Regions from separate parts of the Homo sapiens genome. Here region 2 is reported to be linked to region 1. Evidence: microRNA targets listed by miRTarBase, many of them from high-throughput screens and not tested one by one. Region 1 holds a microRNA gene; the other region holds the end of a gene's coding sequence.

Region 1 (3,646 bases):
GAAATGTGTGTTCCGCAGTTATCTGGTTTAGTGGTCTATAAATATCAATTAGGCCAAAGTTGTTGATTATCTTATTTAGATCATCTGTATCTAATTTGTATCTGCATCTAATATGTATCATTTGTATTTCTAGTTTTAGTTTGTTTTTGTGGGTACATAGTAGGTGTATATATTTATGGATGTTTTATGCAGACATGCAATGTAAAATAATTAAATCACGGACAATGGGGGTATCCATCCCCTCAAGCTTACTATCCTTTGTATTAAGAACAATTCAATTATATCCTTTTAGTTATTTAAAAATGTACAATTATTTCTGACTATAGTCACCCTGTTGTGCTATCAAATAGTAGGTATTATTCTTTCTAACTATTTTTTTACCCATTAACCATCCCCAACACTTGCCCAGCCACCCACTATGCCTCCCAGCCTCTGGCAACCATCCTTCTACTCCCTATGCCCATGAATTCAATTGTTTTGATATTTAATTCCCACACATAAGTGAGAAAATATGATGTTTGTCTTTCTGTGCCTGGCTTATTTCACTTAACACAATGATCTCCGGTTCCATCCATGTTGAAAATAACAGGATCTCATTCTTCTTATGACTGAATAGTACTCGTTGTGTTTATGTACCACATTTTCTTTATCCATTCATCTGTTGAGAGACACTTAGGTTGCTTCCAAATCTTAGCTATTGTAAATACTGCTGCAACAAACATAGGAGTGCAGCTACCTCTTCAATATACTGATTTCCTTTCTTTTGTGTATATACCCAGCAGTGGGATTGCTGGATCATATGGTAGCTCTATTTTTAGTTTCTTGAGGAACCTCCAGACTTTTCTCTGTAGTAGTTATGCAAATTTACATTCCCACTAATAGTGTACAAGGGTTCCCTTTTCTCCACATCCTTGACAAAATTTATTGCCTGTCTTCTGGATATAAGCCATTTTAACTGTGGTGAAATATTTCTCATTGTAGTTTTAATTTGCATTTCTCTGATCAATGATGTTCAGCACCTTTTCATATGCCTGTTTGCCACTTGTATGTGTTTTGAAAAATGTCTATTCAAGGCTTTGCTTATTGATCAGATTATTGGATTTTTTTCTTGTAGAGTTTCTTGAGATCTTTATATATTCCGGTTATTAATCCCTTGTCAGGGGTAGTTTGCAAATATTTTCTTCCATTCTGTGAGTTGACTCACTTTGTTGATTGTATTCTTTGCTGTGCAGAAGCTTTTTAACTTGATGTGATCCCATTTGTCTATTTCTGTTTTGGTTGCCTATGCTTCTGGGACATTGTTCAAGAATTTTTTGCCCATACCAATGTCTTGGAGATTTTTGCCAATGTTTACTGGTAGTTTATACTTTGAAGTTTTAGATTTAAGTCTTTAATCAACTTTGATTTTATTTTTGTACATGGCAAAAGATAGGGGTCTAGTTTTATTCTTCTGCATATGGATATCCAGTTTTCCCAGCACTGTTTATTGAAGAGACTGTCTTTTACCCAGTGTATGTTATTGGCACATTTGTGGTAACTCTCTAGATAAAGAAAAGCTGAGCACATTCATCACCATCAGATCAGTTGTACAAGAAATGATAAAGGGAATTCCATAAGCTGAAAGAAAATTAGCAACATGAAAAAATATGAAAGTATAACAATGACTGGTAAAACTAAGAAGTCAAATTCAAAATACTATAATAATGTAATGGTATATAAACTGCTTTTATTCTTAATATGAATGTTAAAAGACAAAGCTACTAAAAATAATAGCTGGCTATAATAATTTTTAAGGGATACACAATAGAAGAACATATAAATTGTGATGTCAAACATAAGATGTGACGGTAAAAAGTTTTAATGCAATCAAAGTCAAGTTATCAATTTAAATTAGCCTGTTTTAAATATACAATATTTTATGTAAACATCATGCTAACCACAAAACAAAAGCCTATAGTAAATACGCAAAAATAAAAGGTAAGGAATCGAAGCATATCACTAGAGAAAATTACCTAATCCAAAAGGAAGCCATCAAGAAAAAGTAACGAAGGATCTATACAACATTTAGAAAACAATTAAAAAATGACAGTAGTAAATCTATAATTACCTTGAGTGTAAATGGATTAAATTCTCCAATAAAAAGTAGATAAATAGATACAAAAAAGTCCCAACTCTATACTACTTATAAAATTCTCGCCTCACCTTTAATCACACACATAGACTGAAAGTGAAGGAATGAAAAAAGATTTCATGCAAATGGAAACCAAAAGAGCAGAAATATCTATACTAGATAAGGTAGACTACATCAAAAATTGTAAAAGACAAAGAAGGTCACTATATAATAATGAGGTCAACTTATCAAGAGGACATAACAATTCTAAATACAAATGTACTCAACATCACAGCTCCTAAATATATAAAACAAATATTAATATATATGAATGGAGAAAATACAAGGAAACTTCACTATCCAGCTTCCAAAAATGGTTATTCTTCAGAAAGAAAATCTACAGGAAAACATCAGACTGAAACTACACTTTAAGGGGACCAAAGAGATATATAGATATCAGCTACCTATATACCTGTTCGGTCTCTTTAAAGTGTAGTTTAACTGATTTTTTAATGGATATATACATATCAATGGAGACATATATAACTTATGGATATAGAACATTTCATCCAACATTAGCAGAATACATGTTCTTAAGGGCACATGAAACATTCTTTGGGATAGATTGCAGGGTAGGCCACAAAACAGGCCTTAACAAATTTAAAAATATTAAAATTATACTACATATCTTTTTTGACCTCAATGGTATGATACTATAAATAATTTTAAAAATTTCATAAAATTTCCAAATAAATGGAAATTTAAAAGTCGTGACCTTTAACAATGAACGATTCAAAGAGAAAAATAAAAGGGAAATTAAAAAATATCTTGAGACAGTGAACACACAACATGCCAAAACTTATGGGATTCAGCAAAAGGAGTTCTTTTAAGGTAGAAGTTTATATCAATAAATACCTATGTCAGAAAAAGAACATTATTAACAACTTAACATTATTTCTCAAGTTACTAGAAAAATGAGCACACTAAGACCAAAGTCAGTAAAAGAAAGAAAATAATAAAAATCTGAGCAAAAATAAAAAAATAGACTTGAAAACATTAGAAAAGATTGCTGAAACCAAGAGTTGCTATTTTGAAAAAATAAAATCAACAAACCTTTAGCTAGACTAAGAAAAATGAGAAAACTTATGGGCAAGGACTTCATGTCTAAAACACCAAAAGCAATGGCAACAAAAGCCAAAGTTGACAAATGGGATCTATTAAAACTAAAGAGCTTCTGCATAGCAAAAGAAATTGCCGACAGAGCGAACAGGTAACCTACAGAATGGGAGAAAATTTTTGCAATCTACTCATCTGACAAAGGGCTAATATCCAGAATCTATAAAGAACTCAAATTTACAAGAAAAAACAAACAACCCCATCAAAAAGTGGGCAAAGGATATGAACAGACACTTCTCAAAAGAAGACATTTATGCAGCCAACAGACACATGAAAAAATGCTCATCATCACTGGCCATCAGAGAAATGCAAATCAAAACCACAATGAGATACGATCTCATACCAGTTAGAATGGCGATC
Region 2 (3,323 bases), not on the chromosome of region 1:
TATGGAATAGCCCCTAGAAGGCAGGGGCTAAGGTCATGGCCGAGTTCAGCCTCCACTTGCCAGGTAGCAGCAGAGAAAGAAAAGACTCAAGCCAATCTGAGTGGGTGGGGGGAAAATGTGACCATGGGAACCTTTTGGGGGTCCTTCAAAAAGCCTCCCACACATTTTCCTTTCCATGAAGAGCACAGGCTCAGTTTCAGGGCAGGCAGGGAGTGGGGTCCCTCAGGCATTAGCTCTGGCCTACAAAACCCTGAGGCATAAAGGGATGACATTACGGAGTAGGCCTTGTGCTGAGTCAGGGGAGAGGCTTAGGATTGGATGATGGTTAGTAAACCTTATAGAATACTTTGCTTAGAGTTTCATGGAATGTCCCAGAAGTTTACCTTAGTCTGGACCCACCCCCAGTCTGAACCTTCTGGAATTTTCTATGTACCCCAGATTCGGGGGCTCACAGGGAACGTTCCTGGCTGGGATCTTGACTGAGAAAACAAACTTCAGAGGTCTATCTCAAGGAGCCCATGCTATTAGACCACTAGTGCTTTACAAACCCACATCGAAAGGAGGCCACCTGTTTCACTAGAACAAAAAGCCCTTGCCCCACTGTTTCTGTCGTGCCTGCTTTACTGGTTGAGAAGCACTAGTTTCAGAACATTTTGCTAAACTCCACTTCGTGCAGTTTGTTTTTCCAGAAAAAAGAAACTCCACTTGCTGCAGTTTTGTTTTTCCAGAAAAAAGTCTCTGTCCTGTTTTCTAAATATGAAACATAGTAACAATAAATGTTCTTTTAAAAAGTACATATCCCCTTCCCCCAAGTCCAGGCTCACTGAGCCAAACAGGTCTGAACCAGATTGGGCTCAAATCTTTTTTTTCTTTTTCTTTTTTTTTTTTTTTGAGATAGGGTCTAGCTTTGTAGCCCAGGCTGGAATGCAGTGGCAGGATCGCAGCTCACTGCAACCACGACCTCTCAGGCTCAAGCGATTCTCCCACCTTAGCCTCCTGAGTAGCTGGGACTACAGGCACTTGCCACACCCGGCTAATTTTTGTGATTTTTGTAGAGATGGGGTTTTGCCGTGTTGCCCAGGCTGGTCTCCAACTCCTGAGGTCAAGTGATCCACCCGCCTTGGGTGGATCCCAAAGTGTTGTGCCAGGCCCCAGATCTTCATTACTGCATCATATGATCACTGCAAAGCCTGGAGTAGGGGCATACCCCCAACCTCCGAGGCAAGAGACAATCAATGGTTTCCCTTTTTTTTTTTCCTTTTCAGGCTAGATTGGCACAATGATGGAATGGTTTTCAAGAGGCCAAGTAGGACCAGCTGTGGGTTTATCCCATTTTACCTAAGGATTTTACACAATACATTGAGTGCAGGAATGGCACGCAATGATTGCACTCAGTAATATACCAAACCACTCCTGGCTTTGTTTAGACCCTAGACTTGGGCCCTCATCCTTCTCGTAGACCTCTTGCGAGGATTTTCCCCTTTTACAGATTCACACTCAGTCCCGAACAGAAACACTTGAGCACCTACAATCTCACAGCCAACTCCCTGCCAACGTCCAGTGACTCACAGTTAAGAGAGCTTCAGCAGCAGCTCTGACCAAAGTGATGACCAACTACTTAACATGAATTAGAAACAGAGCAGAAAAAACACGCCTTTAGCCTGCTCTGCGTAAAGAACCAAGTCTCCACCATGAACACCAAGCCACCAACTCCCCGTCCCTCAGTAGTCCTGTGTACTCCCAAAGCCCCAAAATTTACCCCAGCCTCAAGCAGCCTTGTTTAAAAAATTAAGGAAGGGCCTGTGATAAGCACTGCAAGTTAAACAGAAACAGGGGACTTAAGTGCAGAGTTTGTCACTCTATTTCTGGGAGGGGATGGGCTGCACAGTGTGCAATGGGGCTGGCTGGTAAAGGGAGGACCAGGTGACAGCCAGCCACACTGTCTCAAGGATGAACCTGGCCCTGCTAGCATTATGCTGTAATCCCTGTGGATTAGAACTATGGATAATAGGGCCGGGAGCAGTGGCTCATGCCTGCAATCCCAGCACTTTGGGAGGCTGGACGGGCAGACAGCCTGAGGTCGGCAGTTCGAGACCTCAGTCTGGCCAGCATGGTGAAACCCCGTATCTACTAAAAATACAAAACACTAGCCAGGTGTGGTGGGAGCCTGTAATCCCAGTTACACAGGAGGCTGAGGCAGGAGAATCGCTTGAACCCGGGAGGTGGAGGTTGCAGTGAGCTAAGATCGCACCACTGCACTCCAGCCTGGGCAACAGAGCGCAAGACTCCATCTCAAAAACAAAACAAAACAAAAAACCCCCCAAAAACTATGGATAATAAAGCATGACAGACCTCAAGATGCCAAATGATTTTCTCCTCTGCTGTCATGCCTACAGAGTAACTTCTCCAAGGTCACACATTAAATATGGGCACAGGAACACTCATTCCTTATGCTCAATGACTTTTTCTCACTCCTACATGCTATCAACATAAGGAGGAGTGCCCCAGGGGGCTGACCTTAGCGGGAGGAACGACAGGCTCTCCACCGATCCCATTCTTACCCTGGACCAGGTCTCACCTGCGGCTTGGGGAAGTCACAGAAAGACAAGTTTCGTACAACCCCAGACCTTTTCTTTTGGTAGTCAACAATTGGTCACATTGCACATTTCAAGGTTACAGAGGCCCACCATACACATGCGGGGCAGGAGGAGATAAATCTTGCTTGGGGCTAAACAATAAAGCTACAGCGAGTGTTCCAGAAGTTGACCACATCTGGAAGCAAGAAGACAGACTCTGGAAGAAGCACCCTAGAGACTCCAGGAACCCCCTTCACTCCTGGGCTTTCGGGACTCTACAGCGTGGGGCCTCTTTCTCAGACATCGAAAGGCCTCCTTTTCTGGACCACAGTGGAGCGATGTGCAGGTCATCGGCTAAGCTGGGCGGGTCGGGGAGGGCAGGGGGAGTACAGTTCCTTCGGATCCCAGCAAAGGTAGACTATCAATGGCCAAGGGTTCAGAGGCAGGAAAAAAGGCCGTTTCTGGGGGGTTGGCTGGGGACACTCCCCTTCCCTTCTCTCTCCGATTAAATATAAAAGCCGATGATGATGAAGATTGAAAAGATGAGGAAAATGGCAGCCGTGTCTCGGGTATCCTCCCAGCGGAGGCCTTTCATGGACCGATACTCCTGCCGTTTGCGAAGGGCCTCCCGCCGGGCCCTCAGGCGCCGTTCCCGCTCCAGTTGTTCCCCGTAGTGGGCCTGGTAGAAGGCGTCAAAGTTGAACATCGTGCGGTTGGCGCCGGGGGAGGCCCGAGAACCGTCGTGGG

What was found. Region 1 holds the annotated microRNA hsa-miR-3144-5p (AGGGGACCAAAGAGAUAUAUAG, at 2,542-2,563, shown strand). A microRNA usually pairs through its seed, bases 2 to 8, with sites in the 3' UTR of a target mRNA and lowers its output. Matches are read on the target gene's strand: a 7mer-m8 pairs with bases 2 to 8, a 7mer-A1 pairs with bases 2 to 7 and ends in A, and an 8mer does both.
Region 2: miRTarBase lists DNAJC30 as a target of hsa-miR-3144-5p. Seed matches in the 3' UTR shown: 7mer-A1 at 3,051-3,057.

What each region holds. Positions count from the first base shown.
Region 1 is chr6:120,012,650-120,016,295 of GRCh38, forward strand. MIR3144 (microRNA 3144) reads left to right here and starts at 2,530; the gene lies at 2,530-2,608.
Region 2 is chr7:73,679,662-73,682,984 of GRCh38, forward strand. It overlaps DNAJC30 (DnaJ heat shock protein family (Hsp40) member C30), which reads right to left. Exons shown (of 1, transcript NM_032317.3): 1 at 1,257-3,323. The coding sequence ends at 3,082. Among named protein-coding and RNA genes, the nearest start is that of DNAJC30, 2.1 kb to the right of the region's middle. RefSeq lists an enhancer at 3,214-3,303.